Regions from separate parts of the Homo sapiens genome. Here all the other regions are linked to region 2. Evidence: fine-mapped expression QTL. A gene starts in region 2. Each other region holds a variant in brackets. All regions are shown on one strand. Distances are between the middles of the regions.

Region 1 (10,859 bases), 460 kb after region 2:
AGCCAGCGACCAGAGAATTTCCTGCAAAGACAACCACCAGTTTCTTAGGAAGGGGGTTCAGGTGCAGCCCCTCCTACTGGGGGTTCAGTCCTCTGCCGGGGACTCCTCCTCCCCCATGCCTGCTGACACGCCCACAACCAGCTGTGATGAGTTTAGGACAATCTTACTTGTAACTCCAAACTCTTTGGGACTGGTGACGTGACCTGAGGCCTTGGGAGTCATCTACACCAGAGGTCCCCAACCTTTTTCCCATCAGGGGCTGGTTTCGTGGAAGACAGTTTGTCCACAGGCTGGGGGTAGGGTGGTTTTGGGATGAAACTCTTCCACCTCAGGTCATCAGGCATTAGATTCTCATAGGGAGCACGCAACCTAGATGGCCGCATGTGCGGTTCACAAGAGGGTCCACGCTCCTCTGAGACTCTAATGTCGCTGCTGATCTGGTAGGAGGCGGAGCTCAGGAGGGAAAGCTCACTGGCCCCTGCTCACCTCCTGCTGTGCACCCTGTTCCTAACAGGACATGGACCAGTACCAGTCCATGGCATGGAGGCTGGGGACCCCTGATCTACGCTACCCATTGCTATATGCAGTCCATTTAAGCTCTTAAAAAGAAATCTCTGGAATATTTCCTCTCCAATCCACTTAATTCCAAAAGGGCACCCTCTCTTCATGGACAACTGCAGGAGCGGACACCACCACTCTCTGCCAGCTTCTTCTTTCTGGAATTAATTGAAAACATTTCCATATCCTGACTGAGGTACAAATCACACGCCAGACAATTTACTCATCTCAAGTGCACAGTTCAGCAAGCTTTAGTGTCCTTCAAGTGCGACTCACCAGAAAGGTTCAGAATATGTTCATCTTCCTCAGAAGAAACCCTTAGACATTACTCCTAACTACTTCCTACCCCAGTGCCAGGAAACCACTGATCTATTTTCTGTCTCTATTTGCCGATTCTGGACATTTAATGTAAATAGAATCACACAACACGTGGTCCTTCGTGTCTGGCTTCCACTCTGCATGTTTTCAGGGCTCAGCCATGTGTAGCAATATCAGAATTTCATTCCTTTTTATTGCCAAATAGTATTTCATTGTATGGATGTACAACATTTTGTTTATTCATTCATCAGCTGGCGGACGTTGAGGTTTTCTCTTTGGTTATTAAGAGTCATGCTGCCAGGACGTTCACGTACAAGCTTTGTGGAGAAGTGTTTTCAGTTCTCTCGGGTGCATATACCTAGCATTTTGAGGAACTGCTAGACTGTCTTCCAAAGCAGCTGTGAGGCAGGAGGATAGGGAATTCGGGTAACCAAGGGTGAAGGCATAAGCAGAAGAACAGCAGGTGCAGCTACTTCCAGGCAGGACTGGGCAGCACACAGGCCACAGCCTCCCTCCAGTGATAACAAGACAGACAAGTTGCACGTCAGCCTCGGACTGACCACGGGCCACATCTCTGCTTCAGCCTCTGATTGGTCACAGGCCTCTAAAGGGCACCCAGGGGTGTTACCAAATTCTTTTCGCTTAAGAAAAGCCCTAAAGAACATTGCAACTGGGGATCTTGAGCCGCTTGCTTGAGCCCGCTCCCACTCTGTGGGGTGCACTTTCGCTTCAGTAAATCTGCACTTTCTATACATCTGTGCTTTTGTTGCTGTTTTCTTTTGTTGCTTTTTTCTTTTGTTGCTTCTTTCTTTTGTTGCTTTGTTTGTACATTTTGTTCAATTCTTTGTTCAATTTTGTTCAGTTCTTTGTTCAACGCACCAAGAACCTGGACAACTCACAGTCAAGATGTCCCATCCGGTAACAGCAGCATTAGTTTTACTTTCCCACACAATTGCATGAGGATCCTGATTGCTCCACCTACTCTCAAACACCTGTTATTTTCTCTCTTTTTTATTATAGTCCTCTTTGTGACAAGCAGTGGTGTCACACTGCAGTTTTATTTGTCTTTCCCTGGTGGCTAATAATGGTGAACATCATTTTCAGTGTAAAAGTCTTGTTAAGTCTTATACCTTGTACTTCTTTGGTTAAAGGTATCCTGAAATGTTTTGATATTTTTGATGCTATTGTAAGTGAAATTGTTTTCTCTTTCTTTCTTTTTCTTTTTTTTTTTTTTTTGGACAGAGTCTCACTCTGTTGCCTGGGTTGGAGTGCAATGGCCTAATCTTGGCTCACTGCAACCTCCACCTCCCAGGTTCAAGTGATTCTCCTGCCTCAGCCTCCCAAGTAGCTGGGATTACAGGCACCCGCCACCACGCCCAGCTAATTTTTTGTATTTTTATTAGAGATGGGGTTTTGCCATGTTGGCCAGGCTGGTCTCGAACTCCTGACCTCAGGTGATCCACCCGCCTTGGCCTCCCAAAGTGCTGGGATTACAGGCATGAGCCACGGTGCCCAGCCTTTTTTTTTTTTTTTTTTTTAATAGAAACAGGGTCTTGATATGCTGGCCAGAGTGGTCTTGAACTCTTGGCCTCAAGCAACCCTCCTGTCTCAGCCTCCCAGAATGCTAGGATTACAGGCATGAGCCACCATGCCTGGCTGGAATTGTTTTCTTAATTTCATTTTCAGTTGTTCATTTCTACAGTATAGAAATACATTTGCTTTTTGTATATTGATCTTATATTCTTCAACCTTGCCGAATTTGTTTAGTGAGTTTAACTCTATTCTGAATACGCTCCAGGATAAACATGCTAGGTCACAGAACAAGCCTGAATACATTTAAAGGATATAAATCATATATGATTCAGGCTTGTTCTATGACTTAGCATGTTTATCCTGGAGCGTGTTCAATGCGCACTTGAGAAGAATTTTCAATTCTGTTGTTAGGTAGCGTGTTCTACAGGTGTCTGTTAGGTCTGTTCAGTTTATCGCATTCTTTGAGTCTTCTGCTTACTTGCTGATTTTCTATCTAGTTGGTCTACCCATAATTGCAGGTAGAGTATTGAAGTCTGCCATCCTTGTTTTTGAATTGCCTATTTCTCTTCCATTCTGTTGGTTTTTGTCTCACTAGTTCAGGAGCCCTGTTGTTAGGTGTATTCTTCCCTCCTTTTATATTATTATAGTTATACACATTATATGTATATATGTTATAAATATAATACATTGTTATAATTATGACTTTACATAATTTCATGTTCATTAAAGGAGGTGAGAAAAGGAAGGAGGATACATATTTATTTATATGCAAGTTCTATTTCTCTTTTTATTCACCATGTTTGTTTCTCTTCATTTGGTCCTGTGGATTCGAGTCACTGGCGTCCTTTCCTGACTCCAGTAAAACTTTGCCTTCATCACATCCTTTGTGTTATTTTTGTCAAATACATTACATTTCTACATGTTACAGGGCCAACAGTACAATTATACACACTCTGTCTTATACAACTGTTCTTTAAATCAGTTAAGAGAAGGAAAATGAAGAAATATACATGTCTACTGTCTTTTATAATTATATAATTACCTTTACTGATGCTCTTTGTGGATTTGAGTTTCCTTGTGGTTTCACTTGCTTTCAGCCTGAGGGATTTCCTTTTCACAAGAAATTCTCTCTGATTTTTTTTTGAAGAATGCTTTTATTTTGCTTTAATTTTTGAAAGACAGTTTTGCCAGATATAAGACTCTTGATTGACAGCTTTTTTTTCTTTCAGCACTTTGAACATCTCACTCCACTGCCGTATGAGTCCATTTTCATGCTGCTAATATAGACAAACCCAAGACTGGGCAAATTACCAAAGAAAGAGGTTTACTGGACTTACAGTTCCACGTGGCTGGGGAGGCCTTCCAACCATGGCAGAAGGGGAAAGTCACACCTCACATGGTGACAGAGAGAGACAGAAGGAGCTTGTGCAGGGAAACTCCTCCTTTTAAAACCGTCAGATCTCGTGAGACTCATTCACTATCACGAGAACAGCATGGGAAAGATATCTGCTCCCATGATTCAATTACC[G/T]CCCACCAGGTCCCTCCCGCAACAGTGGGAATCCAAGATGAGATTTGGGTGGGGAAACAGCCAAACCGTATCAACTGCCCTCTGACTTCCATCATTGCTGAGGAGAAGACAGCCATCAGTCCTTTTGGGTTCTCTTGTACACGGCAACTCGTTCCCACTTTCTGCTTTCAAGATTTTCATGTTGGCTTCAAACATTTGTACTATGACATGTGTGAGTGTGAATCTCTTTGTATTTATCCTACTTTTGGGATTCATTGAACTTCTTTGAGAGATTCACATTTTTAAGCAAATTTGGGAAGTTTTCAGCAATTATTTCTCTGAATGTTTTTCTGCCCCTTTATCTCTCTTCTCTCCTTTTGCTTTCATTATGCATATGCTGGGGGGCTTAAAGGGTTCACATATTTCTCTGAGGTTCTATTCCTTTTTTTCAATCTATTTTTATCTCCGTTTTTAAGATAACATAATTTCTACCAACCTATCTTAAAGTTTGCTGACTTTTCAGTTCAAATCTACTCATGAGCCCTGCCAGATGTTTTTTGGCATTTCAGTTATTTTCAGCTCCAGGATTATCATTAAAAAATAATTTCAATCTCTGTATTTTTTTTTATTTGATGAGACATTGTCATGGTTTCCCTCACTTCTATGAGCACAGTGTTGTTTAGTTTTTTGAACATGGCTGTAATGTCTGCTTTGAAGTCTCTGTCTACTCAACATCTAGGCCCTCCTGCTAGTCAGAGTCAAATTAAAAAAAAAATCTAGGCCCTCACAAGGCAGCTTTTGTTTCCTGTGTTTTCCTCATGTCTCATTTTCCTGTTTCTTTGAATGTCTTTGCATGTCTACATTTTTGTTGAAAATCGGATGTTTTAGGTAACAGTATACAAACTACATGCTGATTCCTCTCTTCCCTCTCTGTAGCTTGGTTTTGTTGTTTTGCTTATTTGTTGAGTCACTTGGCTAGACTATTTCAGTGAAGCTTATTTCCCCTGCAGTGTGAAGCCTCTGGGGTAGTTCCTTGGAGGACTCAGCCTTGGGCATGCACGCAGCCAGCCTGGGTTGTGGTGGTTTTGGTGGGGACACTGGCTATCTCTTTCCTTGATCCCTCTGTTAAGCTATCTACCTCATGCGGTATCATATCTACCTGTTAAGCTCCATTAATTACTAACTGATTGCTCTATGATTTTCAGTAATGACCTGGGCATACATTTCTTCAATGTCTGGTCCAATTAAACTGCAGCAGTGAACATTTTTTAAGGCCAGTCTCTGAGGTTTGTTTTAGCTCCAGGAGGGCTTTTTTTTTTTTTTTTTTTTTTGAGACTGAGTCTTGCTCTGTCACCAGGCTGGAGTGCAATGGCGCGATCTCAGCTCACTGCAACCTCTGCCTCCCGGGTTCGAATGGTTCTCCTGCCTCGGCCTCCCGAGTAGCTGGGACTACAGGTGTGTGCCACCACGCCCAACTAATTTTTATATTTTTAGTAGAGACGGGGTTTCACCATATTGGCCAGGATGGTCTCGATCTCTTGACCTCATGATCCACCCACCTCGGCCTCCCAAAGTGCTGGGATTACAGACGTGAGCCACCGCGCCCAGCCGAGGGCTCTTCTTAGTGTCACCTTGGTTCTCTCTAGCAACCTAGCAGGGCTATGAATTAGTTTGTTGATGATGTGCTGAATTGTGTCTCTACCCTCGAATTCGTATGTTGAAGTCCTAACCCCCAGCGTATTAGAACATGATTCTATTTGAAGATAGGCCCTTTAAAGAGGTGATTAAGTTAAAATGAGTCCATGGGGGTGGGCCGTATTCCAATGTGACTGGTGTCCTTACAAGAGGAGGAAATCTGGACACAGAGACACAAGGAATGAAAAAAGACCACGTGAGGACACAGTGAGAAGGGGGCCATTCACAGGCCAAGGAGAGAGGCCTCTGAGGCAACCAAACCTGCCAACGCCTTGAGCTCAGACGCTTCCGCCTCAGAACTGTGAGGGAGAAATTTCTGTTGTTTAAGCCCCCAGTCTGTGGTGCTTTGTTCTGGCAGCCCTCACAGACCAATTCATTGCTCCTAATTAAGAGGAACAATCATTTCAGAGCATGCCTTCAGGCTTGAATGTTTCCACGCTGTTTCCAATAAAGCCAGTTCCTTTGGGAAGAGCTTCAGAGCAACCTTTTCTTCCCTGTGGACTGCCCTGCTCTCTGGTCTTTTCAGTTTGCCTCTTTTTACGGAACTGCGTCCTACAGTGGAGCTGGGCACAGCAACTGGATCCCAGCCTTCTTAGCCCGCTGTTCTTGGGCTAGAGCCCCATCCGATGAGTAGGGACTGGCTGGAGGAAGGGGGCTGTCCGTCATGCTCACCAGGAATTTAGCCTCTTCAACTGGGTGCTGGGGTGAGAAATGCTGGCATCTGTCCCTCCTGGTGAGATAAGGGGACCCTCGGGTGGGAGCTGAGGGGAGAGCGAGCCCTGTCTCCTTGGCCACAACCACCAAGAGTGGGGCTTCTGTCAAGATGAGCTGGGGTGGGGGAAGGAGGGAGCCACAGATGATCATTATTCTTAGGGAGTTTCAGCAGACTTTCTTGAATAAATATTTGTCATCTGATTTTTGCTGTGAGGACTATGCTCTGATTTTTTTTTAACTCTTACTCAAATTCCTATCTAAGGGGTCTGGGGAGTCATGCCCTACAAATCATAAATTCTTATCAGATGGGTTTTATTTAACCCTATATATTGTGACTTGCTTTCCAAACCTGACTCGTGCATAACATTACGAGACAAGGAAGAAAGTCAAAATATTTTACCCCAAAAGCATGTTTCTTTGCCATATTTTGAAACGGTCCTGCAGAGCTGTCCGTTGTTGGGAGACGTGTACATCTGTAAAGAATCTCTGTTAACATGGCTAGATCTTTCTTCCAGGCCCTCCCAATCCTGAAGAAATGAACTAGAGTCTAGCACCTTTTAAAGATCTAAATAGGAAACATTTGTCACCTATTGTCTCCAAGGGCAGCCACTATGAGGCTTCAAAAGAACCTTGGTCTCCACAGTCTTTTATCTTAACCTGAACATTTCCTTTCTACTGATCCCAGGTCTTCGGAGAAACTCAACCAATTGTCAACCAGAAAGTGTTTACATTTACCTAGAGCCTGGAAGCCCTCCCCCTGCCCTTTGAGTTGTCCCGCTTTTCTGGGCAGAACCAATGTATTTCTTAAACGTATTTGATTGATGTCTCCTGCCTCTCTAAATTGTATAAAACCAAGTTGTGCCCCGGCCACCTTGGCACACGTTCTCAGGACCTTCTGAGGGCCGTGTTACAGGCTGTGGTCACTCATATTTGGCTCCGAATAAATCTCTTCAAATATTTTACAGAGTTTGACTCTTCGTTGACAGCTGTTCGCACAATTTCCATTAAAACCTGGGTGGTTTTCCCCATTTTGCGCGTTTTGCTCAGGTTTCCGGGGCTCCGGTCCCTGCCACCCCGGGTGTCCCCGGGCGGTGTTCTCCCTCCATGGCCATTACTGCGCTTGAACCACCGCCCTCCACAGTGTGACATTTTCAGAATAGGAATGTAATCTCAGCTTCCCACCCTTCTCACAGGCCCTCCGACGGTGGCTCCGTGCCCTCAAAAGAAGGATGATCCCTTCCTGGTCCCGCCTGACCCGGGGGAGCTCGGCCCCTGCTGTGCTGTCAGCCTCGCCCCGGCCGCCCGCGCTGACCCCCGCCCGGCTCACAGCACCGCTGGCCGCAGCCTCTCACCGAGAGCTCCTGCCCTCAGCCTCCAGCCGGAGAAGGACTCCCCATCCCAGCAGAGCTCAGCTCAGCGGGCACGCGCACGACGCAGAAATCCTTGATTTCTCAGGTTAGGCGACGGCTGAATTATAAACACGGGTAAGACCACGCACCTCCACTTCCCAGCGTTCTGTATTTTACAACCATTCTGTGTTTATTTCATTGATCTACTTCCCGGATTCAACGGTATACTCCAAGAGGGCAGTGACTAGAAGAACTTTATCTGTCCCGGCTTCGCTACTGTGCTCCCAGCACGTGCACAGCACACAGCAGACAGTTTTAAAAGCCGCGGAGGCCCCGGGTGGGAGGGGAGAGGAGGCCCCGGATGGGAGGGGAGAAGAGGTCCCGGGTGGGAGGGGAGAGGAGGCCCCGGATGGGAGGGGAGAAGAGGTTCCGGATGGGAGGGGAGAGGAGGCCCCGGATGGGAGGGGAGAAGAGGTCCCGGGTGGGAGGGGACAGCAGGCCCCGGATGGGAGGGGAGAAGAGGTCCCGGGTGGGAGGGGAGAGGAGGCCCCGGATGGGAGGGGAGAAGAGGTCCCGGGTGGGAGGGGAGAGGAGGCCCCGGATGGGAGGGGAGAAGAGGTCCCGGGTGGGAGGGGAGAGGAGGCCCCGGATGGGAGGGGAGAAGAGGTCCCGGGTGGGAGGGGAGAGGAGGCCCCGGATGGGAGGGGAGAAGAGGTCCCGGGTGGGAGGGGAGAGGAGGCCCCGGATGGGAGGGGAGAAGAGGTCCCGGGTGGGAGGGGACAGCAGGCCCCGGATGGGGGGGAGAAGAGGTCCCGGGTGGGAGGGGAGAGGAGGCCCCGGGTGGGAGGGGAGAAGAGGTCCCGGGTGGGAGGGGAGAGAAGGCTCCGGTGTGGGAGGGGGGAGGGGGAAGGGGGTAGGAGGTCCCTGGTGGGAGGGGAGAGGAGATCACCAGGGAAGTCCAGGGGTGGGAGGACAGAGCAGGTCCACCACCCCTAGGTCCTGGAAGCCTAGACGAGAGGGGACAGGTCACGTGGGACGTTTGCGTCCAAAGCTGGCTACCATCCAGTGAAAGCCTCCAGCCCACCCGATTCTCCCAGGCCTCCGCGTGGAGCCTCTGAGGGGGGTCCCTCCTCCCTCCCCCCACTCAGCCGCACTGGGCTCTGCAGCTGCCGGGTCCGTCGCTCCCAGAAGCCCCCCCACCGCCCGCTCCCCGCCGGCATCGCCTCTGCTTCTGGCCTCCTCTCACTGCCCCCAGTGACCAGCACAGGAGCGGGCGTTGGGGAGCACGAGGGGGTGGCTCGAGGCGGGAGCGAGGGGCAGGAAGAAATAGCAGGAAGACCCAGGGGCAGGAGGCCGGTGTTCAAGCGTCGAGGAACGTTTCATCCCTTCTGAATCCCAGGCCTCGCTGGACCACGGACCCGCCAGGTTCTCCCGCAACTTGCGGAGCTCCTGGACCGGCCCTTCCCAGAGGCGCAGCGCTGAGTCCCAGGAGCAGGACCTGAACCAGGAAGGGGAGGGGCGAGCACAGTCCTGCCTCCTCCTCCCCGCACAGTGCTGGGGGAATGACCCCCACTGCCTTCTTCTCCTCCCCCAACACTGCAGGGGGAATGACCCCCACTGCCTCCTCCTCCCAACACACTGCAGGGGGAATGACCCCCACTGTCTTCTCCTCCCAACACACTGCAGGGGGAATGACCCCCACTGTCTTCTCCTCCCAACACACTGCAGGGGGAATGACCCCCACTGCCTCCTCCTCCCAACACACTGCAGGGGGAATGACCCCCACTGTCTTCTCCTCCCCCCACACTGCAGGGGGAATGACCCCCACTGTCTTCTCCTCCCCCCACACTGCAGGGGGAATGACCCCCACTGTCTTCTCCTCCCCACACACTGCAGGGGGAATGACCCCCACTGCCTCCTCCTCCCAACACACTGCAGGGGTAATGACCCCCACTGCCTCCTCCTTCCCCACACACTGCAGGGGGAATGACCCCCACTGCCTTCTCCTCCCCCAACACTGCAGGGGGAATGACCCCCACTGCCTCCTGCTCCCCACACACACACTGCAGGGGGAGTGACCCCCATATTTTAATGCAGTGGTTTCTCTGGTCACTCACGGTCCAGCACTAGCACGCAGCAGTCGGGGAAATGCTGTGGGTATGAGACGGCCTGGATTTTGAAGGCGCTGCATGAAAAAGAATGTAGAGAATCTGAATGCATTTTATGTATAGATTGCATGTTGAAATGATGCTGTTGGGATATATTAGGCAAAATAAAATATATCACAATTTATTACACCTCTTTCTACTTTTTTCATGTGACTCCTAGAAAATGGATGGTCTCTGAAGGGGCTGGTGTCAGGTCTCGAGGGGACTGAGCTGCTCTGAGCCTGTCCCGTGTCACAGAATGTGGCCAAAGGTTCCAGGAGAGTCGGTGGCAGTGCTGGACGGAGGCCTCGTCTCCTGCTGCAGCGTGTTTGTAATACATCAGGTCCGTATCACTTTGTTTCCAAGCTTATTTACGTAGCAGCTGTTGGCTAGGCATGCACATAGGCCAGGAGAACAGTGGCGAAAAGGCCAGCTCACGCCTGGCAGAGGTGACAGGACACGGTGTGCGACGTGATCGCGGCGACCATGTGGCATCGTTGGTTAGGAACATGGACACCAGCTTCTCATGGCCCCAGTGCCAAGGACGCCCTCCCTGACCAGACCCTGGGCTTCTCCACGCCCTTTTTCAACTCAGCCTCAAGTCTGCATCGCCGTGAGAATCCCCCACGCCTGCGTCCGACATCTGATCAGTTCTGCGTCCCCCGCCAACCCCCAGGTGATGCTGGGTTCCCCAGGCCTGACTTTAGGAAGACTCCCCATGGGTCAGTTTAGCCTGAGTGCCCTCCAGCCTTGCTGTATGCAGAGTTGAGTCCAGCTCCAAACTGCGGTGTTTTCTTCCCCCTATTACAAAGTTCTGGAATCCAACCTGCTTTACCACTTTAATGACTCTGGCTCTGCCCATGTCATTAGAAACCCTGCCAAGAGGTGTGACAAATCTGTGTCTCCACCTGAGACAGCCAGAGGCCCCGTGTATGTACACAAGTCAGCCCCGCAAATGGTGTCCTCAGGAGCAAAGAATATTCAGGGCGGCCCATGTCCAGTGCTGCCTGAGAAACTCCTCTTAGAATATGAGGCTGA
Region 2 (10,859 bases):
GCATTCCAAACCACAACTGCTCAGAAATGGAATAGCATTTTTATTTTGGCTGTTTCAGCAAAATCAATATTAAATCATCTCATGAACTTGCTAATGAAACTTTAAAAAAATTACACATGGCTAAATATTGTTTTCTTATCACCTTTCTTCTCTTTCAAAGCAAATAAACACAAATAGGAGTGGGAAATAACTGTTTCAGGTCTGTGGTCATGCATTCCACAAGACCAATAAGAGGCATTTACCAGGTGCCAGACCCTCTGTGAGAAGATGAGGATTCAGGATGAAAGTCAACTACAGTCTGAGAGGTGAAACGGCAGTGTGGAATTGTAAAGTTCCTGAAGACAGTGCAAAAAACAGTGCAGGGAACTCCCACGAAGAAAGAAAAATAATGGCAGGATGACTTGAGAAATATTCGGATCTGCTTAGTGACCAGGTGCCCTTCAGAGTCTCTCAAAACTTCAGTTTCCTCATCTCTTGAATGTGGAGACAACGGTACCTTTAACGAAGTCGTGCGTATGACCTTAGGGGAGCGTTAGGTATTGGCAGTAAGAGAAGTCTGAGAAGGATGGTAATGTGACTTCAACATTCTAAGTGTGAGCAAAATATGATTTAGTCAACATGGGAATGAATACTTTGGCTCTAACCAAAAACTTCTGGGAAAGGGGTCCCAGGCAATATTGTTCTTCTCTCTGCCTTTAAAGAAATCACCTAGGTATGGGCTTATGGATCAGTCCATCAAAATTCATATAATGACAACCATGATAAAGTTGAGTAATTGTGATCACGCCTGTTTGCTCTTTGAAAACAGAATTATGTGTAATAAAAACCATTTATACTAGAGATCATTCCCTCATCTCAGTCATTCACAGAAATAAAAAGGAAAATGGGCACGGTGTGGCATTCAATGTACCTCCTTCTTCAAGGAAGAAATTGACCTGCATCCAAATTAAGAGCGCATTGGACACACTTAAGAATGCCATTGTTGACTGGAGGTGAGAGGGTCTGAGCAATAACCAGGAAGTTGTGCAAAGCCATCAGAAAGTCACAATGAGAGACACAGAGGGCCTCATGGTGCCATTTCTAAAGAATGACTTTGGTGGAAAGAAGAGAGATCATTACCAGACAAAGTGGATTCTCTGAATCTTAAACATAAAGTAGCAGAGGTGAGCACACCAGCAATGCTGGACCCACCAAGAAAGCACACTCACCATAGGTGAGTAAGACAAATGCGTGGTCCTGAGAAGCCAGGTATGGCAAACTGAAAGCCCCAGAGAGGCTGACATATTTCCCTGCTTCTAGATGAGAAGAAATGAATGGAGTAGAAGGAGGCAGAGAGGCAAGCTTTCCTCCTTGGTCTATAGAGTCCCACATGGCTACTCCCACAAAGTCCACAGATACACCCAGAGCCAAGTGGTGTGCTCTGAGAATCTGCGGCAGGTGAAAATACTGCAAAGTTGAATCCACACACACCTTAATGCCACAACGCTATATGCATTGATAATTACGGTATCAATTGATAGCACTCTCTTATACGGACCCACGGCATGGGCACCATCAAAACAATGTTAGCTGGAGAACTCACATATAGTAGGCGCATTAAAAGCCCTACCTTTAATCCTCACCACATGCTTGAAAGAGATTATGTATTCTCATTTTACAGATAAGGGGACTGAAGATTATGAAATTAAGTAACTTGCCTGAAGTCACACATCCAGCAAGACCCTAAGCTGTGGGTCCCACCCACTGCATGGACTGATACTGCCTCTTGATTTATTAAAGTAGGTAGGATGCAAATCGTAGGGAGAGAAGGCCCTTCTTTGAATGAGGGCCTCCGGAGACAAAAGAGATTTCCAAAAACCAGAAGGCAATTTGAAAAGAGATGAGCACACTGAAAAATCCTGCACATCTCACATCTCCCAGCGACCAGTCAGATTTCAGGCCTGCCTCAGTTACTTTGTAACTCAACTACTTCTTGATTTTCTAGACTGGGGGTGGGGTGAGAAGAAGTGTGCCAAAATGTGTTATGGCTTTAATCTTTTCTTCGGGATACTGATTTTATTTGCAAATGTAAATTTCAGGCAAACTGTTCTTGGGGAATGCAGCCAACAGGGCAAAGCCCACGTGGGGTATCAGCTCCTGCACAGAGACCCCACATGCAGCGGGTCTCACCGCAACCCAAGACATCCTTGGGGCAACCTCAAGGGGGCAAAAGGTGAGAGGGTTCAAGTAAATAGTTAGATGAGACAGGGGAGAGAAGACAAGAAAACCTGCCGAGTCTTAAACTGTTCTAATTACTAACTACCTTGATTCTGCTCTTCCAGGGGGGACCAACAGGCCCAACCCCACCCCCCACACACACAGGGCAGCAGGCAGATGGCAGTCTCTACTTTTTGCGCTTTCAGAAAATCTGAAAATCCGTGGCAACTGTAGGTACCTGCTGCTACAGTCCTGGAAGAAAATGCTATGATCTCCTTTGGAGAATTGGCCTTAGTTTCTCTGTCTCCTCTAGTGTGCTTTAAGAGTATGTGGGGGGTCTTTTTGTGAGTGTATACGTGAGTATATTTATGTCTAGATGCATGTACAGATGTGCATATACATGAATGCCTCCAGTGAGTATCCTCTGAGGGCCCCCTCTGGGGAGATAAAGGATCTTCAGGGAAAGCCTGAGTGTGTGAAAACCTCCTTGGAGCCCCAGTTAGCAGTTTCTAATCTACAAGTCATTTGTGAGACACAAGGCAGGGACCCCGGGCTGCTGCAGAAGAATTTGAGGTATGAGCAATGAACTCACAAACCATCCTTCACACTGCTAAAACGCAAAAGAAAGAAGACGAAGAAAAAGAAAAAGAAAAAGAAAAGATGCCCACATGACTGTTTTAAATTTGCTGAAAGGCAGAACCGACCACAGCTTATTTCAACCATCTTTATTTTCAATACAATAAACACCTTTAGGACAAGTCCCCGGCCACTTAAAAAAGACGGCTGTCCACCAGAGGCGTTCTCACTACCTTCGTGTTTTCTCAAACACTTGTTCAAAAACACATTTAAGTGGAATGTTTTCGTTTCTGGCGATTGCATTAATGATGGGTTTGCAAACCCTGCAAGCCCAGGAGGACGGCTGGAGCTGGGGGCTGCAGACACCCGGCCTTGGCCCAGCGGCCGCCGCGGGTTGGCTTGGCCGGCGGGGGCTTGGCTCAGCCCCCTCTACATAGCTCCTCGTTTGACACCGCGTGCGTTGGCCGGGCCAAGGCTGTCGCATAGAAGTTACAGCTCAGAAAGAAAAACACACAGCGGTCAACCGCGGTGACCCTCGCGCTCAGGAGCGCAGCATCCCTGCCACGAGGAAGAACCCAGAGGCCCCGCAGAGCGGGGAGCCGCCGCCTGCCTCCAGTTCTGTCCTGAGAAGGGAAGAAAGCGCTTCTCTAATAACACTCAGGCCCGTGAAGAATCATCTGTAACCTCATCTGCTTCTTCCTCGGCTCACTTACGAGGGTCTCTGGGAGAGTCAGACCCACGAGTGGGGCCCACGACTGGCAGCCCCTTCAGCCGGCGAGAGGCCCGGGATCCGCGCGGCGCACGAGCCCAAAGCGGTCGGGAGAACACGCTCCAGGCCGGGTCCCCGTGGGCGAGGTGGGCGCCCAGTCCCGGCGGGTCTGTCTTGGCCTTGGGACAGTCCGCGGGGCGGCGCCGGCGCTCCCAGACCTGGTTCCCCACAGGCTCAGGCCCAGCAGTGAGTGCGGGACACCCGAGCGCACCCGCAGCTCCCACTTGTCCGGGGTCTGCAGGACCCCAGGATCCTCTCACAGCCGGGTCAGAGCCCCCGAGGCAGGTGGGGTCCCAGCCGGGTGGAACCCGAGGAGCCCGTCGCAGCCGCAGCAGGACCCCGGCGGGCAGGGTCCCCAGAAGCCCATCCCAGCCGGGTCCCAGGCGCGCACGCTGCGTCCTACCTGCTCCAGCCTCGCCGGCAGGCGAAGGCTCCACGGCCCCCGGGGCCACCTGCTCCCCGTGCCCAGGCGCCTGGGCCTGGAGCGGGGCGCGGGGACCCGAACCCGGCCGGCTGCAAGAGGCGGCACCACTTGAGCTCCAGGTCCCGCGGGCCCGGGCTTACCGTGAGCGCCGAGAACTTCTGAGCGGGCACCGGCGGGAGCAGCCCAGCGAGCAGCGGCAGCCAGCAGAGCTGGGGGAGCAGCATGGTGGCGGAGGTGGCGGGAGCGGGAGATCGGCCGCGTCCTGCGCCCTGGCACTGCAGCCGGGAGAGCCCAGTGGGCGAGCGCGGCTGGGCGGGCGCGTGGAGGGGCGGCTCCGCGATGCTCTCCCCACCGCTCCCGGCGGCCCGGCTGGAGCAGCTCCCCTGCAGGCACCCAGAGGTCCTCCGCGTTCTTTGCGTCCGCCCTCGCTCCTGTCAAATACCCCGGAGCTTCCCGGATCCTCCCCTCCCGCCCGCCTCTCTCCCTCCCCCTCTCCTCCCCCAGCCCCACCTCCCAGCGCCCGCTGCCGCGCCCGCTCCGCTCCGGTGCCCGCTGCGGCCCAGAGGCCTCCCTGGCGCGGGTCTGCGGAGCGAGAGGTGGAGCGGGGGCCACCAGGGCTGCGCAGTGGCCTGTCCGGGCTGTCTCTGTGCCTCCTTCCCCGCGCGCACTCTCACACACACACGTGCACACTTACACACACGCACACCCAGGCACACGCACGCACTCATACCCACGCGCGCGCACCCTCGGGGGGCTTCCAAGCACAACCACGGGACGCACCGCGCCCTCCTCACGCCCCAGGGTCCAGGCCCGGTCCGCGCAGGATCAGCCCAGCGGGACTTTTCATCCACAAAGGTTAACGCCAAGCCTTGGCCGGTCCCCAGACTCCGGGGTTCTCCTTGACCTCTGCCCTCTAAGGCCCCCTGGTCCAGCCCAGAACATTGCCTCTCAGAGGTGCTGAAGGATCAGCGGCGCTCCAGCAAAGGCAGCTGGGAACACATGTCCAGGAAAGGCTGCGCCGGGGGCAGCCCGCCTTTGGCATCTTTACACGGGGTTATCCACTGCAGGGATGGGGGAATTTAGGTCCTAAAGATCCGGGGTCTGACCTGGGCTGTAGCCTTGATCCTCTCAAGTCGGGGGAGCATGTGGTTGGGCATCATTCACAGACACATGTGGCTGTTTTTAAACAGCTCTGTCAAAGCATTTCAGGTGTTTGTGCGGGGAGCACAGGGCTTGTGGAGGTTGTAAACTCACCCACGAAGACTACGTTGGAAACCAGGAAATTTTTGCACACCCAGACTCTGGATAATATCCACTGCAGACAACATTGCTGACATAGTTTAGCCTTGGCTTATAACTTTACAGGAAAAAGCCCTAATTCTGTCTCACACAGAAAGCCAGAAGAGTGAAGATTTGTTCAAGAACAATGAATCAATTGACTTGTCAGGGGCATTGGGAAAAGCACAAAACACAGAAAATCCAAATCTGAGGTTTCATCCGATGTCTAGCCCACTGCTTTGGCTATGAACTTTGGGGGAGGGGGCTGTATCAGCAAGTTCTGGGACTGGCTGCTGAGGCAAAGGCAATGCTATTGCAACCTTTCCCACACAATTTTATCAGGAAAGTGATGTCCGTCGGGCCACGGAAAGACGGGAAAGAAATGCACCTTTTCCTGAAGGAGGGCTACTCTCAGAATTCTCCTTAAAATTCCAAAGCCCAGGGAATCTATTAAGCACTTAAACACATTCCTCCTGGTTTAAGGACTTAGAAGGAAATTATAATAAAACTCTTGAGGGACTGCTCCTGGGTCCAGAAAAACAGGTGAGCAGAGCAGCTGCAAATGATTAAGTAAATAGGAATCACTGTTAGGGAACTGCAGTGAAAATTAAAGTAAAAAGAAAATAAACACTACATACCACTAATTCTAAGATTATCCAAAGAATAAAATTTACACTCGAAGCTGACATACTTCCTTTAAGAAGTATTTGCTACTAAAGAACCTGTTTTTCACTTTCCACTTTGTTGAGAGTACTGCTCGTCAGAACTCAAAAGTTTGAAAGCATGTTCATTTATCCACCATCGTCCGCTGCAAGAATGGCAGACAAGAAGCAGACTTAATTATTCCCATTCTACAGATGAGGAACAAAAGTCAAAGGGGCCAAATGTCTTAGCCAGATCTCCTAAGCAACAAAATCATAAACAGAATGCAGATGTTAAAACCTGCAATACTGGCAAATCCATGTCACTTCCTCTGGCAATATGGAGAACAGAAGAAAATCCTTGGCCCTCCGTGCCTTGTATTCAAGAATCCCAACACGTCTTTCATGTAGCAACTCCAGAATCCTCTGGGAACTCTAGGAAGATAAATGAAATGCATTTGTCCAAAACTCTGACAGATGAGGCAGGTTTGGAGCCTTTGAAACCCCTTTCAAATCTGGAGGAGCTCATGTGTCCTGAATGCCAAATTTTAGTTTCTCAAAATTCTAGAAATGGAGTTTGGAGAGATAATCAGGTTCCATTTTTATGGAGAAAAACAATACATTTATTTAAAACACTGGGAAAGAGTTATGTCTGTCTTTTATTTGTAAGTCTCCAAGAAAGTTATTACTGGCAGGAATGCCAGAGAGCTGTCATGTTAGAAAGGATAGAAAAGTAATTCACTCAGTTCAAAGTTAAGACAGGAAGTGATCAGCTCTATACTTTCCAGAGAGTTCCTCTAGGATGCAGGAAGAAGTTCCCCTCTCTTGGAAATGTAGGTTTTTTTGTTTTTTTTTTTAATTAAAAAGTGATGCAGGGCCCATTCTAAAATGTGGCTTATGCATTCAGAATTTAAATGCCTGTCACTGATGAAAGTTACAATAAAGAACAGCAAGAGAAACTAATTACCAAAGACTCCAGCTGTTTTCACATTTCTAAACTAACTTTCCCTCTTAGGCCATTAGCAAAATGCTTTATCATGAGTATTGGCTTCCTTTTTATTTATTTTACTATGCTAAAACTGCAAAAGGATTTTATTTTCATTATAGAAATGATATAATTTAGTTATTATTTCTGGCTAATTCATGTTTAGCCAGAAAACTTTTTGTCAGCTATTTTCCCATCTCAATATGCCAAGCATAAGTTTAGTCAAATATCTCTTTGTTGATGCAGTGACTTCCAGAAATCCCCTCTGCCATCACTCTGAGTATCATCTGGGACTGAACTCAGGTCACTGTTCATACTCTGAGAATCACCCCACATCATCAGTCACCTGCCAGTCACTTATTAATGTTTTCTCCTAGTTTCTACTTAATCATGGGAGCAGGAGTTTTCACCGTTCACCTGGACTTTCTTAGGTAAGTTCTGTGTGATTTTCCTTTTAGACTACCCCCAGGCTGGACCCGAGAATCTGTAGTTCCCCAGGTTTCTGGAGTCTCTGTCCTCTTGTTGGCTTGTTCATTCTGATGACTTGCATCTTCCTTTTAACTTGTTCCCTTCAACCTACGGAAAAATGATGCAGGATCCCCACATCAATCCCAGGTTTTTAGCCCAAGTTCTGCAGCTTCACAAACCTGTGAGCCATATAGAAAGGAAACCACATCGGCAGAGTTGACAAAATCAGAACAGAGCACCGCCGAGGCTCACCGTCACCGCGGCTGCAGGATGAGGCCAGCGTTGACACACCACGTTGAAAAGTGGACAGTGGAGTTGTGTGTTTGATCCTTGGGCCTGACTCAATGGCTTTCTTCCTATTTTGATATATTTAAGTAACAGAGAATTTGGACTTTGTGCTCAACAAAATAATTAAACAAGTTTCTTCTTTTTTTTTTTTTTTTTTGAGATGGAGTCTTGCTCTGTTGCCCAGGCTGGAGTGCAGTGGTGCAATCTCGGCTCACTGCAAGCTCTCCCTCCCGGGTTCACACCATTCTCCTGCCTCAGCCTCCCGAGTAGCTGGGACTACAGGCGCCCACCACCACGCCCAGCTAATTTTTTGTATTTTTAGTAGAGACGGGGTTTCACTGTGTTAGCCAGGATGGTCTCCATCTCCTGACCTCGTGATCCGCCCACCTCGGCCTCCCAAAGTGCTGAGATTACAGGCGTGAGCCACCGCGCCCGGCCTCTTCTTCCTTCTTAAGATGCCTGAGGACAATTTTTATGATAATACTTTTCAGGCACTTTGTGGCAAATTTTTAAAAAATAATTTCAGCTTTTATTTTAGACTCGGGGGCACACGTGCAGGTTTGTGACATGGACATATTGTGTGACTCTGAGGTTTGGGGTATGAAAGACGCAGAGAGTGAGCATAGCACCCAATAAGCAGTTTTATCAGCCCTTGTTCCCTGCCCCACCTTTCTAGCAGGCCCTGGTGTCTACTGTTCCTTCTTTATCTCTGTGTGTACCCAGTGTCTCATTTCTTCTTTATCTCAATGTGTACCCAGTGTCTAGCTCCCGCTTATGAGTGAGAACATCCAGTATTTGCATGTCTGTTCCTGCATTAATTCACTTAGGATCATGGCCTCCAGTTGCATCTATGTTGCTGCAAAGGACATGCTTCCGTTCTTTTGTGGCTACATAGTATTCCGTGGTGTCTATGTACTACATTTTCCTTGTCCAGTCCACTACTGATGGGCACCTAGGTTAATTCCATGTCTTTGCAATTGTGACCGGTGATGCAATTAACATACAAGGGCTTGTGTCTTTTTTGTAGATGGTTTATTTTCCTTTGGATACATACCCAGTAATGGGATTGCTGGATCGAATGGGAGTTCTATTTTTAGTTCTTTGAGAAATCCCCAAACTTCTTCCCACAGTGGCTGAAATAATTTACATTCCCACCTACAGTGTATAAACATTCCATTTTCTCTGCTGCCTCAGCAGGATCTGTTGCTTTTTGACTTTTTAATAATAGCCATTCTGACTGGTGGGAGATGGTATCTCATTGTGGTTTTGATTTGCATTTCTCTGATGATCAATGATGCTGAGCATTTTTTAATATGTTTGTTGGCTTCTCGCATGTCTTCTTTTGAGAAGTGTCTGTTCATGTCCTTTGCCCACTTTTTACTGGGGTTGTTCTTTTGCTTATTGCGTTGTTTCAGTGCCTTCAGACTCTGGATATTAGACCTTTGTCCCATGCATAGTTTGCAAATATTTTCTCCCATTCTATGGGTTGTCTGTCCACTCTGCTGATCGTTTCTTTTGCGTGCAGAAGCTCTTTAGTTTAATTAGGTCCCACTTGCCAATTTTTTTGTTGCAATTGCTTTTGAGGACTTAGTAACACATTCTATGCCAAGACTGATATCCAGAATGGTGTTTCCTACATTTTCTCCTAGGATTTTTATAGTTTGAGGTCTTTCATTTAATATTTAATCCATCTTGAGATAATTTTTGTATATGGTGAAAGGTAGGGGTCGAGTGTTAATCCTCTACACATGGCTAGCCAGCTATTCCATCACCACTTACTGAACAGGGAATCCTTTCTCCACTGCTTATTTTTGTTGACTTTGTTGAAGATCAGATGGTTGAAGGTATGTGGCTGTATTTTTGGGCCCTCTGTTTTGTACCTTGGTCTGTGTATCTGTTTTTGTGACAGTACCATACTCTTTGGGTTACTGTAGCCTTATAGTATAGTTGGAAGTCAGGTAATATGATGTCTCCACTTTATGGAAATTTTTAATAGATGGTTGGAATGTGATGGGTGTTTTATACACATTATCTAACTTTCATGGAAACTCTACAAAATGGTTATTTTACAGATGAGTAATAAGATCCTGGGAGATTACAGAACTTGCCCAGATTTACACAGCTAGGAAGCGGTAGGAGCAGAATTCAACGCAGTTTTCAGTTTGGTGTCCAGGATCTGTACCCTCCAATATTCTCCATCTCAGAAACTACTGAAGAATCGTGAACTAGAGTGAGAAAAAGTTTGGGGTCCAGAATCTCCTGCCTGATGTCAAGATAATCAGTTCTTAAACTTTTTGAAACCATATACCTTTTTGAGGTATGATGAAAACCATGGGCCATTTCACTAAGAAATGTGTGTGTGCACATGTACAGAAACACACACTCATTCACTAACTCAGCCTTCTGCATAGTGTTTAAGATCCACCACCAGACCAAAGGAGAAAGCCCTTCACAACTGGTTCTGACTTACTGGTAATGCTTCAATCCCAAGATAATGTTTCCAAAGAAAGCTCTTTTTCACAAAGCCAAACACAAGACTGCTACATTTACAGTGAAAACTGTCCCCGTAAAGTTGACGGGAGATGCTTGTGCTATTCTGAAAGGATGTAGTTCTGGTGTTGGAGATATGGTCTATCTAAACAACCAGTCTTACCTCAGGTCGAAACACGTTGCCACTGCTGTTATACATAGCCCAAGTTTACTGAAGTCTATTTGTAATAATATCCAGGGGCCATGTTAGCCTTTCCACTCAGGAAACAACTTTCATTAGCATATGGAACTTGCAGAATCTATCAGTGGCAGAGCTAATAAAGGCTGACCACTGCCAAGGCTCATTAAGGCACAGGATGTGTTCGTGGAAAGAGAAGGAGATCTGGTAAAATTTACAGGAGGCATCTTATTCTAAACTCAGACAATCTAAACTGTTTGAATTTTTGCTCCTTGTTAAGTCAATCTAGGGGTCCTTCCCCTCCTTTCTTCATGTGAGACCACCTTTAAAGAAAAAACAGTTTTAAAATAGCAACAGAAAGCTTGCCAGGAATACTCTGGGGTAGTATGGACCACACAGGTACAATTTATACCGGCAGAAAGCAACGTAAGAAGATACTCTAATAAAGAAAGCTTTGATCACCTTCAGCAGTTTTTCCTCCTCTTGCCTCTCTTCCCTAGCACAACACACAGGCCAGGACGGCATGCCATTAACCCTCCACTGCTGCCCTCCTCCCTCAGCCCTAA
Region 3 (10,859 bases), 180 kb before region 2:
AAATTTATGTAGCAGCAGAGCTAACTCACTGTCCAGATGGACAAGCTACGGAAGTCAGAAACTCCCCTACCCAGAGGGGCTTCCAGAAAAGACACCACTGCATGCCCTTCCCAGTGTGCACTAAGGCTGACTGCTCGGAAGTTCAATCCCACACTCAGCCCGAGTACATCCGGCTTTCTACAGATTGTCCTCTCCTTGGAGAAATGTGGGCATGGTGTCGGTCTCCGAGAGTGGCCTTGCACGTCCTGTACCTTGTCCCTTCTATGGATGCCAGGCACCAGGCACAAAAGGCATCTACTTTTGCAGTAAAGCATTTTGTACCTCAGCTTCCCCCCTGTGAAGGAGGCTCTCTGTGGAAGTGTGGATTAGAGAAATGGCATCTCAGGGTGGAAAGGGCTTGGAAATAGCAGTGGGAAGACAAGACAGGCAGCCCTGCTCTTGTCACTTTCTTGACACGGCAACAGTCTCACCTCTGCTGAGTTAGTTAAGTGGTCAGGAAGAAACCGAGCACACATGGACTCTAGGTCTGCCTGTCAGGAAATGGTACGTGCAAGAAAAGCCAGGGCTCTAAACAATAAAGAGTAATGTCAACACACAACATGCCATGGCGAGAACAAAGGGGAGACTTGCCAGGCACCAGGAGAGGCACAGGACTATCCTTGTCTTTTTTTTTTTAATGTAAAGGAGTTTAATTGAACAATGAACAATTCATGAATCCGGCAGCCTCCCAAGCCAGAACAGGCTCTGATACTCCTGTGCAGCCACATGGTGGAAGAAGATTCATTTTGTTCCATTCTTTGCTTCAAAAAGATTTATCCACTAGAGGCTGGCCGCAGTGGCTCACACCTGTAATCCCAGCACTTTGGGAGGCCGAGGCGGGTGGATCAGGAGGTCAGGAGATCGAGACCATCCTGGCTAACACGGTGAAACCCCGTCTCTACTAAAAATACAAAAAAATTAGCCAGGCGTGGTGGCAGGCGCCTGTAGTCCCAGCTACTCAGGAGGCTGAGGCAGAAGAATGGCGTGAACCCGGGAGGCGGAGCTTGCAGTGAGCCGAGATCATGCCACTGCTCTCCAGCCTGGGCCACAGAGCGAGACTCCATCTCAAGAAAAAAAAAAAGAAGATTAATCCATTAGAGAAATTCCAAAGACAACAATGCTATTCTGCTGCCTTTGAATAAACAATTTTACCCCTGTGTAACGCAATGAGTGGTGATATGGTTTGGCTCTGTGTCCCCGCCCAGATCTCACCTTGAATTGTAATCCCATAATCTACACATGTCAAAGGTAGGACCAGGTGGAGGTGACTGGACCATGGGGGTGGTTTTCCCCATGCTGTTCTCCAGATAGCGAGTGAGTCCGCGTGAGATCGTGAGATCTGATGGTTTTATAAACATCTGGCACTTCCCCTTCTCTCTCCTGCTGCCATGTGAAGAAGGACATGTTTGCTTTCCCTTCTGCCATGATTGTAAGTTTCCTGAGGCCTCCCCAGCCATGTGGAACTGTGAATCAGTTAAGCCTCTTAACTTTATAAATTACCCCATCTTGGGTATTTCTTCATAGCAGCATGAAAACAAACTAGTACAAGCGGGTTACTACTTAACAGAGCAAAATTGTAAATAAAACATGGACTTCAAATACATTTTTAAAGAGCATATCAAAGACTGCTCCAAAAAGTAGCACTTCATGGCAGATAATGTGTGTTCCTTAGGAGACGTTTTTAAAATCAGAAATCTGACACTGGGACTAATACTATTCTCCTCTGGAAATAAGGGGATTATACATTTCAAGTAAGTTGATTACATCAGGAAAAGCGTAGAGAAAAGATGCATAAATAGGACAGAAACTCAAAACACTAAAGTGTGTCTGCTGAAATTTACACTTGAACAATTTATCTCAGGAATTTCTCAAAGCGAATTAACAACTAATGGGCAGTCCATTTATCCTTCTCTGTCAGAGGGAAACCTCTGACGTTTCTGAAAGATTGTCCTTAATTTGACAAGTTAGAAGAGAACTAAGAAAAAAAGTAAATCATGCTGTCTGAGAAAACATCCTAGGGGTTTCCATAGCCTGTGGTTATTCATCACAAGCCAGGTTTTGAGAAGTTTTCGACCTTGGTTGGTCATCCAGGGTGTCCAAGGAGTTTGACACGCGGCTGATGCATCTGGGCACTGCAGCCTTAGTCTGTCCAATTAAATTCTTAAGGAATTATCAGGAAGAACATAACTCAATTGCTCCTATCAGCTGGGCCATTTCTATTAGTCTTGCCTTTATTCTAGAAGTAATAACCGCAGTGCTCTGGCCAATATCCAACCTGGATAATTGGATTTTCCCTGTCTTGATCCCCCTTGGAATTAATTTCTCCTGCAGAAGTGATTTCTCACGTTCACTCCTCTCTCCGCACAGTGTCAGTGCTGCCCATGCTGTCTGCGGTTCCCTGACTCAAAGGGTGCTATCTAGGGTGAGGGTGAAATGTTCTTGACATTGGTACAAGTCTGGAAAAGAGTTTACAAGAATTCTACCATAATATTTTTAGACATAGGGAAAATTTTCCTATATATCAGTCTCCATTTTCCCAATATTTCAAACTGAAATAAGGTGGCTTTCTTGTTCAAGAGCATTCATCCCAGGGTCATAAACCTGCAATCCTCACAGCCAGGTCTCAGCTCCAGAGTACGGGAGCTGGATCTCTATTGACTTGCATCTCCCAGAACATTGGCAAGCACCACCTATGCAACAGGCATGTAATAAATACTTGCTTGCAAAATTAGAAAACAAAGGGATTTGTAATTCTCATGAGAAGGTAAAGCAGAGAAGGCACCATGCAGTCTTAGTATTCTGCCAGCGTTGGGTTTAAAGACATAGGGGAATCAGGAAGATAAGCGCTTCCAAGTGAAAACAATAAACATGATTCAGTGAAGAGATGAAATACCGATAGCTAAAGAACGCTCAAGGCATCTGAATTGCTTGGTTTGGTGGAGGGGAGAGACCACAGGCAAATATTACACGCAGGTAGGGCTGTGTGTTTCATGCCTGAGCAACCTGGTGCAGGGGATCTGAAGACCTGAAGGCAGTGACTGCCAACCTCAGGGAGCACAGAGCCCGTGTGTCCGGAACCTTGAGAGCGAGCTGGACAACGGCCTGCCGGAGCACAGTGACCATGACTGGTACGTAGAGTAAAAGGGCCACAAGACACAGAGCGTGTAAACTGAAGCTGTGGGCTTTCTAACCATGGCAGGCACTGGCTACACAAGGGACAGCTGGCTGTGGAGACCTTCCGACTCCAGGCAGAGTCCCCTCTGTCCGGACTGGCCTCACTGTGGTCTCACCTGAAGTGCACAGCCTCTGAGAAAGAAGGGCGCTTTCAGGAGTACCACGGTGGTTTCCTGCCTGAGTCAGCGGCAAACGGGAAGTAAGTGAGACTTGCGTTATAGGAGGTTTTAATTTGATTATGGTAGAGCCTCAATCAATTCAGAAAAGATAGGAGGGAAGTCTAAACTAACCACTGTAGGCCAGTTAAAAGCATACTTGTTATTTTTAAGTGTATACCGTACTTGGAAGGCTTTTAAAGTAGTTAATCATTTAGGATAAACTGCTTTAATAGAGTTAGGAATTATTTGCAATAGAATAACAATTGTTTAGAAATTAATTTAATATATTTGATAGTGTTGGAGACCAGTTTGTTCTCAAGTTATTTAAATTGTCTCTGAAATATTGCTTACACTATTAATTTGTCTGGCAGATGCCTTTTTCATGATGAACGTAAATCTAAACTTTATTCCATCTCTCTTCTGCATAATCATAACTTTCAAAGTAACGCAGGCTAAACTGGCCAGAGCTGACTGTCCTGTTGTCGTTCAGAATGCTCCCTGCTGTCTTTGGGAATTTTTTAAATGGCACTTTATCTTTAAAAATCTGGCTCTAAAGGAAACCATAAACAAAAACAAGCCACATTGCTTCTAAAATAACTCAACAATGTGCTGTTGCGGTCACCGGCGCTGCTCAGAACTCAAGTTCTCCGATCCGTGCTGAGGGTCATTTTGTGTCAGGTCATAGGTCATCTAACACTTGGTTCTCTGATATTCTAGCAAATTCCTGGGTATTTTAAGATTAAGATATTTATTGTCTTATTATATTGAATAAACAAATAAAATGCAGCCCATAATTTCAGAAATTGGTTCCCAGTTTAGTGGAGTCTGTGGAGTAGTGACTGAAGGGCACTCCAGCTTTCC[T/C]GCCATCGCTGTCTCTCCCAGACCGGATGCCCGTGTGCCTGCTGCGTCGAGAGCCCATAGTCCCTGCAGGAGACGATGTCACCTTCCCCATCGCCTAAGCTGGGCTACTGATGTCCTGAGCGCACCGTCTTCCTGTCTGCATCTGTGCTCACCCCATGCGGGACATTCCTAGCCCTTCCATCGTCATTCCCTGGCCTTGTCTTAACTCTTTTACCACCTCTCCTTGACTCGCCTCTTAATGCCACTACCTGCCTCTCCTCAACTCTCCTCTTAATGCCACTACCCACCTCTCGACCCTCGTTTTAATGCCACTACCCACCTCTCCTCGACTCTCCTTTTAATGCCACTACCCGCCTCTCCTCCACTCTCCTAATGCCACTACCCGCCTCTCCTCCACTCTCCTAATGCCACTACCCGCCTCTCCTCCACTCTCCTAATGCCACTACCCGCCTTTCCTCCACTCTCCTCTTAATGCCACTACCTGCCTCTCCTCCACTCTCCTCTTAATGCCACTACCTGCCTCTCCTTGACTCGCCTCTTAATGCCACTACGCTGGCTCTTTGCCATTGGATGCCCAGTGAATTGCAAGCTGTGTGTTGTTACTAATCATGATCGGCTTGTTTGTAGGGCTCAGTGCAAAATGGAGCACGGAGGCCTCGCGTTTAAAAATTAATTATTTCATCGTGGTGATAGCACAGCAATAAACCGAGGGTCCTGTTGGAGCACTGGGCCCTGGGGCGATGGTCCAGGCCACTCCCATGCAGGCAGCCTTGCGGCTAATAACACGCCATAGGACAGATCCGTTTTCTTGGATGGGAAATAAATGGGTGGGTTAAAAATCTCAGATTATTTTATCCCTGGCAGACCCCATAAACCTGGCAATCCATGTCAGCATGCCTCTCAGGGAAATGACCTGTGTCCTGTGTGCTGGAGGCATGGCCCCTCAGCGAGGCGCTGGACGCGACCCCCGCCTCTCCAAGTAGGCCATGCAATCAGGCGAGATACAGTCCCATGCATGGCGGAGAGAAGAAAACAGAAAATGCACTGGGGTAAGGCCAGGAGGGGCCCCATCGGTCACAACAAGCAGTTCACATTTAATCTGGAGCCAGGAGACCCTGATGATGGGAAGCAATACAGGCCAGATCTGGGGTTTCCAGACACCTCTTCTTGCTGCATGGATGGGGATCAGAATCTACTTACAGTCTATTTGGAAACTCGCCTGGAGGAAGCAGTGGGGCAGCCAGCGAGATGCAAGAGAGCTTGGAGCAGAGACAGGACTTGTCCAAGCGGATGTGAGTGCGGGACAAGAGTGGAGTGCCCCTGGCCCATCAGAGTCCTAAACTTTTGCTTGAAAGGTCATGGGAGAAACTATAGCTCCAGCTTCCTGCCCCGTCTTCAGAGTCCACGAATGCAGTGCCCTGGGCCCCTGGGAGACCCGTCCTTGGGTGTGAGAAAAGCTCCTGCTCAGCCACGTCGGTGAGAAACAGCCACCCTGCTCAGTTATTCACACTCAGCTGTTGAAGTATCAATTAATAAACAGAAAAAGCGCCCAGCACCCTCCTGTACATAATTAGACATTTGTTAGTCTTTCCTCTACATGTTGAGGAAAATAAAACGCCTTTGTTTATTTAATTTCTCTATTCCTGTTCTTGTTTTTTTGAGAATGATGAATTCCCACATTCCCCCAAACCTCCAATGTCTCCTTACTCTCAAACATGAAGACAAAATATCAGCCAAAAGAAATATTGTAATAAAATCCCACTGAGAATTCTGCTGGCCTTGCTGCAAGAGTAGCCATATCGCTCCTTCTTAGTTCTCATCTCTCCGGTGCCCTCTGCAGGGTGCATCCTGTCCACTTTCTTTCCCAGGAGAAAAGGCAAGCGCTGAGTGAAACGCTCACTTCACCTGTGTCCCTGCACCTGCGTGGGCTCCCTCAGCTGCTGGAGGAGCTCCCTGCAACCCCCCCGCAGTGCAGCGGCATCTCGGGATGCTCCACAGACACCGGTTCTTGAAAACCACCTTTTCCCAACCGCTTGACTCCTCGGCACCCCTTGTCCCTGCTCTTCCTGTCTTATGATGCCTCTGGGATGGCAATTATATGTGTGGTTTTTCTGAGTTTTTATTTGCAGCAGTCTTTTCTCAATAAAACTGATTTAATGGTCCATTTCACTGTTACGCTTCCTAAAAACTGCAATTTCCTTCAAAAGTGTTACTAATCTTATTCATGGGCAAATTTCATATTTAGACATCCAACTTAGTGGTCAAAAAATAAAATAATGTAGATTCAGCTCTCTCTTCCAAGTGGTGCCATGTGGAACGGTCTCTTGCCATATCTGGGACTCCCCAGCCCTACCCATGAGGCTGAGTTGATGTTCTTTAGGTATCATGCCACCAGACAGCTCTCAAAAGCAGAATGCCAGGTTAAAAATCCTCTCTCACAGACAGCCTCGCATCCCAGCCTCCTCAACACCCAGTCCTTGTCCCAGCCTCATGGGTCATGGAGAGTCTGAGCCTGTGCCCTGAGCAGCTGGTTCTGGCGTGAGCCTGTATGGACACAGAGTGCAGATAGCTCACCTAACTACTCACATCCCCAGAATTACAGTAGTATGTTTCTAAAGCCTGAAGCTTTGTTCCCAGCTCAGCTAAAATTTAGAAGACTCGTGTCTGTAAATTCAGTCTTTGATATGACAGCAGGGATCACAGAAGTAGACATTTTTAGTGGGCAGAATATTGACACCTCGTGTCACCTTTGTGAGGCTCTCAAAGGCCACCAAGCGAGGTCCTGGCCGGCTCCTGTCTGCTTTGTAGAAAAGGTAAACACCGAGGTCCTTACATGTCACATGATACCTGGCAGGAATGTGTTGCTCCTGATCTAACTACCTTTTGGAAAATGTCCTAAGCTCCACTTAGGGCAAGGTAAGGTTCATTTTATGCTCTCTCAGAAAACCATAACTAATCTTCAAAAAATTAGAATAGTGCTAAAATCGTGTCTGAAAAATCCAGGTGTTGCCTCTAAGGTTTCTACATGAGTCAAAGACGATAATTATGCCAGCAATTGCTTGGGGCCCCAAGAAAAAAGATGCTCCTGGCTGTAGATGTGAAGAGACCCTGTGCTGGCTGTAGGTATGAAGAGGCCCCCTGTGCTGGCTGTAGGTGTGAAGAGGCCCTGTGCTGGCTGTAGGTGTGAAGAGGCCCCCTGTGCTGGCTGTAGGTATGAAGAGGCCCTGTGCTGGCTGTAGGTGTGAAGAGGCCCCCTGTGCTGGCTGTAGGTATGAAGAGGCCCTGTGCTGGCTGTAGATGTAAAGAGGCCCTGTGCCGGCTGTAAGTATGAAGATGAAGAGACCCTGTGCTGGCTGTAGGTGTGAAGAGGCCGTGTGCTGGCTGTAGGTGTGAAGAGGCCCTGTGCTGGCTGTAGGTGTGAAGAGGCCCCCTGTGCTGGCTGTAGGTGTGAAGAGGCCCTGTGCTGGCTGTAGGTGTGAAGAGGCCCCCTGTGCTGGCTGTAGGTGTGAAGAGGCCCTGTGCTGGCTGTAGGTGTGAAGAGGCCCCGTGCTGGCTGTAGGTGTGAAGAGGCCCCATGCTGGCTGTAGGTGTGAAAAGGCCCCGTGCTGGCTGTAGGTGTGAAGAGGCCCCGTGCTGGCTGTAGGTATAAAGAGGCCCTGTGCTGGCTGTAGGTGTGAAGAGGCCCTGTGCTGGCTGTAGGTGTGAAGAGGCCCCCTGTGCTGGCTGTAGATGTAAAGAGGCCCCCTGTGCTGGCTGTAGGTGTGAAGAGGCCCTGTGCCGGCTGTAAGTATGAAGAGGCCCTGTGCTGGCTGTAGATGTGAAGAGGCCCTGTGCTGGCTGTAGGTATGAAGAGGCCCTGTGCTGGCTGTAGGTGTGAAGAGGCCCTGTGCTGGCTGTAGGTGTGAAGAGGTACTGTGCTGGCTGTAGGTGTGAAGAGGCCCCCTGTGCTGGCTGTAGGTGTGAAGAGGTCCCCTGTGCTGGCTGTAGGTGTGAAGAGGCCCTGTGCTGGCTGTAGGTGTGAAGAGGCCCTGTGCTGGCTGTAGGTATGAAGAGGCCCTGTGCTGGCTGTAGGTGTGAAGAGGCCCTGTGCTGGCTGTAGGTGTGAAGAGGCCCTGTGCTGGCTGTAGGTGTGAAGAGGCTCCATGTGCTGGCTGTAGGTGTGAAGAGGCCCTGTGCTGGCTGTAGGTGTGAAGAGGCCCTGTGCTGGCTGTAGGTGTGAAGAGGCCCTGTGCTGGCTGTAGGTGTGAAGAGGCCCCCTGTGCTGGCTGTAGGTGTGAAGAGGCCCCCTGTGCTGGCTGTAGGTATGAAGAGGCCCTGTGCTGGCTGTAGGTGTGAAGAGGCCCTGTGCTGGCTGTAGGTGTGAAGAGGCCCTGTGCTGGCTGTAGGTGTGAAGAGGCTCCATGTGCTGGCTGTAGGTGTGAAGAGGCCCTGTGCTGGCTGTAGGTATAAAGAGGCCCTGTGCTGGCTGTAGGTATGAAGAGGCCCTGTGCTGGCTGTAGGTATGAAGAGGTCCTGTGCTGGCTGTAGGTATGAAGAGGCCCTGTGCTGGCTGTAGGTGTGAAGAGGCCCTGTGCTGGCTGTAGGTATAAAGAGGCCCTGTGCTGGCTGTAGGTGTGAAGAGGCTCCATGTGCTGGCTGTAGGTGTGAAGAGGCTCTGTGCTGGCTGTAGGTGTGAAGAGGCCCCCTGTGCTGGCTGTAGGTGTGAAGAGGCCCCCTGTGCTGGCTGTAGGTGTGAAGAGGCTCCATGTGCTGGCTGTAGGTATGAAGAGGCCCTGTGCTGGCTGTAGGTGTGAAGAGGCCCCCTGCTGGCTGTAGGTGTGAAGAGGCCCCCTGTGCTGGCTGTAGGTGTGAAGAGGCCCTGTGCTGGCTGTAGGTGTGAAGAGGCCCCCTGTGCTGGCTGTAGGTGTGAAGAGGCCCTGTGCTGGCTGTAGGTGTGAAGAGGCCCCCTGTGCTGGCTGTAGGTGTGAAGAGGTCCTGTGCTGGCTGTAGGTGTGAAGAGGCCCCCTGTGCTGGCTGTAGGTGTGAAGAGGTCCTGTGCTGGCTCTAGGAGAAGAGGCCCTGTGCTGGCTGTAGGTGTGAAGAGGCCCTGTGCTGGCTGTAGGTGTGAAGAGGCCCCCTGTGCTGGCTGTAGGTGTGAAGAGGCCCTGTGCTGGCTGTAGGTGTGAAGAGGCCCTGTGCTGGCTGTAGGTGTGAAGAGGCTCCATGTGCTGGCTGTAGGTGTGAAGAGGCCCCCTGTGCTGGCTGTAGATGTGAAGAGGCACTGTGCCATGCCCTTTAGGGAGAGGCCTTGACCATTCATGAAGTCTGCTGGGTCCATAGAGCTTCCAGAAACACTTGGGTGAGAGGCTGTTTGACCAAAATAAAGACCATTTCTTAGACTGTGTGCCAGGCGGAAGAGCTCTGGGGATCCAGGAGAGGACCCTGGCTTGGGGTACAGGGCAGTAACAGAGGGGCCATGCCCAGGCTCCCCAAGGGGCTCCTCATGCCGCCCCCTCTGTCCTCACACTGGTGCCACTGCTGAACCACCAACATCAGGACACCCACAGAAAGACAGTGCTGTTTTCACCTGAGCTGGTGGAGGAAGGAATGGCTCACAGGATACGTCAGACTTCCCCTGCACCTTCCTGACCCCCAGGGCCCAGCTCCTGTGCTGCCTTTGGGGTGGCCTGGACCACAGTGCCTGAGAGTGAGATCAGACTGCACGCAGCGCAGATCGTCACAATGACGAAAATGTGAGCGTTCCCTGCCAGTGTAGACTGAAATGAAGCAACGCCCAGAGGAAAGCCAGTCTGCTCATTCGAATACGATTGGTCCTGAGAATGAGAGTCAGCCGGAAAACCGTATCCGAGAGTGAAAGACACAATTGCATGATCAGGAAAGGTGAGAGGAAACCCTGCACTCTAGGCCATGAAATCACTTATTTTGACTTCACTTTAGATCAAAGTCTCCATTGTAAGTTTTCGAGCCAACTCTCCTTGGCCGATGCTCCTGCCCTGAACCTGCCGGCGACTGGGCCTGCTCTGCTCTGGACAGGTGCATCTCCCTGCACCTCTGTCTTTCGCCTGCATCTCCTCTCTGACAAGGTTGTGCCGATGGCCTCTTGCATTGCCGCGCCGAGGGCCTACGAGCCTGAATCACAAATGGAGCCGGTGCCGCAGCTGAGGCAAGCAAGGGACTGTTCTGGCTTTTTCCCCTCTCACTCAGCAGAAGGGGCCCTGAGGACTGATGGAGATCACGAACCCAGTGCTGCTGTTTGAGTAAAGGCTGGGGTCACCCTCTCCCCTGATGGAGATCACGAACCCAGCGCTGCTGTTTGAGTAAAGGCTGGGGTCACCCTCTCCCCGATGGAGATCATGAACCCAGCACTGCTGTTTGAGTAAAGGCTGCGGTCACCCTCTCCCCGATGGAGATCACGAACCCAGCACTGCTCTTCAGGTAAAGGCTGGGGTCACCCTCTCCCCTGATGGAGATCACGAACCCAGTGCTGCTGTTTGAGTAAAGGTTGGGGTCACCCTCTCCCCTGATGGAGATCACGAACCCAGCGCTGCTGTTTGAGTAAAGGCTGGGGTCACCCTCTCCCCTGATGGAGATCACGAACCCAGCGCTGCTGTTTGAGTAAAGGCTGCA

Evidence for each region. PIP is the estimated chance that this variant, and not a neighbour inherited with it, causes the effect.
Region 1: its variant is fine-mapped to the expression of SMOC2 in skeletal muscle (GTEx, PIP above 0.99).
Region 3: its variant is fine-mapped to the expression of SMOC2 in esophagus muscle (GTEx, PIP above 0.99).

Annotation. Positions count from the first base shown.
Region 1 is chr6:167,975,030-167,985,888 of GRCh38, reverse strand. It overlaps HGC6.3 (a long non-coding RNA gene), which reads left to right and starts at 6,096. Exons shown (of 3, transcript NR_171011.1): 1 at 6,096-6,344; 2 at 7,519-7,809; 3 at 9,074-9,971. RefSeq lists a silencer at 3,674-3,874 and enhancers at 5,739-6,314, 6,892-7,468, 7,469-8,045, 9,885-10,794. The variant G/T (reference allele first, on the strand shown) is at 3,938.
Region 2 is chr6:168,434,701-168,445,559 of GRCh38, reverse strand. SMOC2 (SPARC related modular calcium binding 2) reads right to left here and starts at 4,376. Exons shown (of 13, transcript NM_001166412.2): 1 at 4,106-4,376. The coding sequence starts at 4,189.
Region 3 is chr6:168,612,231-168,623,089 of GRCh38, reverse strand. The region is part of intron 9 of SMOC2 (SPARC related modular calcium binding 2); the gene reads right to left. Among named protein-coding and RNA genes, the nearest start is that of SMOC2, 180 kb to the right of the region's middle. RefSeq lists enhancers at 223-392, 9,966-10,135 and a cis regulatory region at 10,050. The variant T/C (reference allele first, on the strand shown) is at 4,233.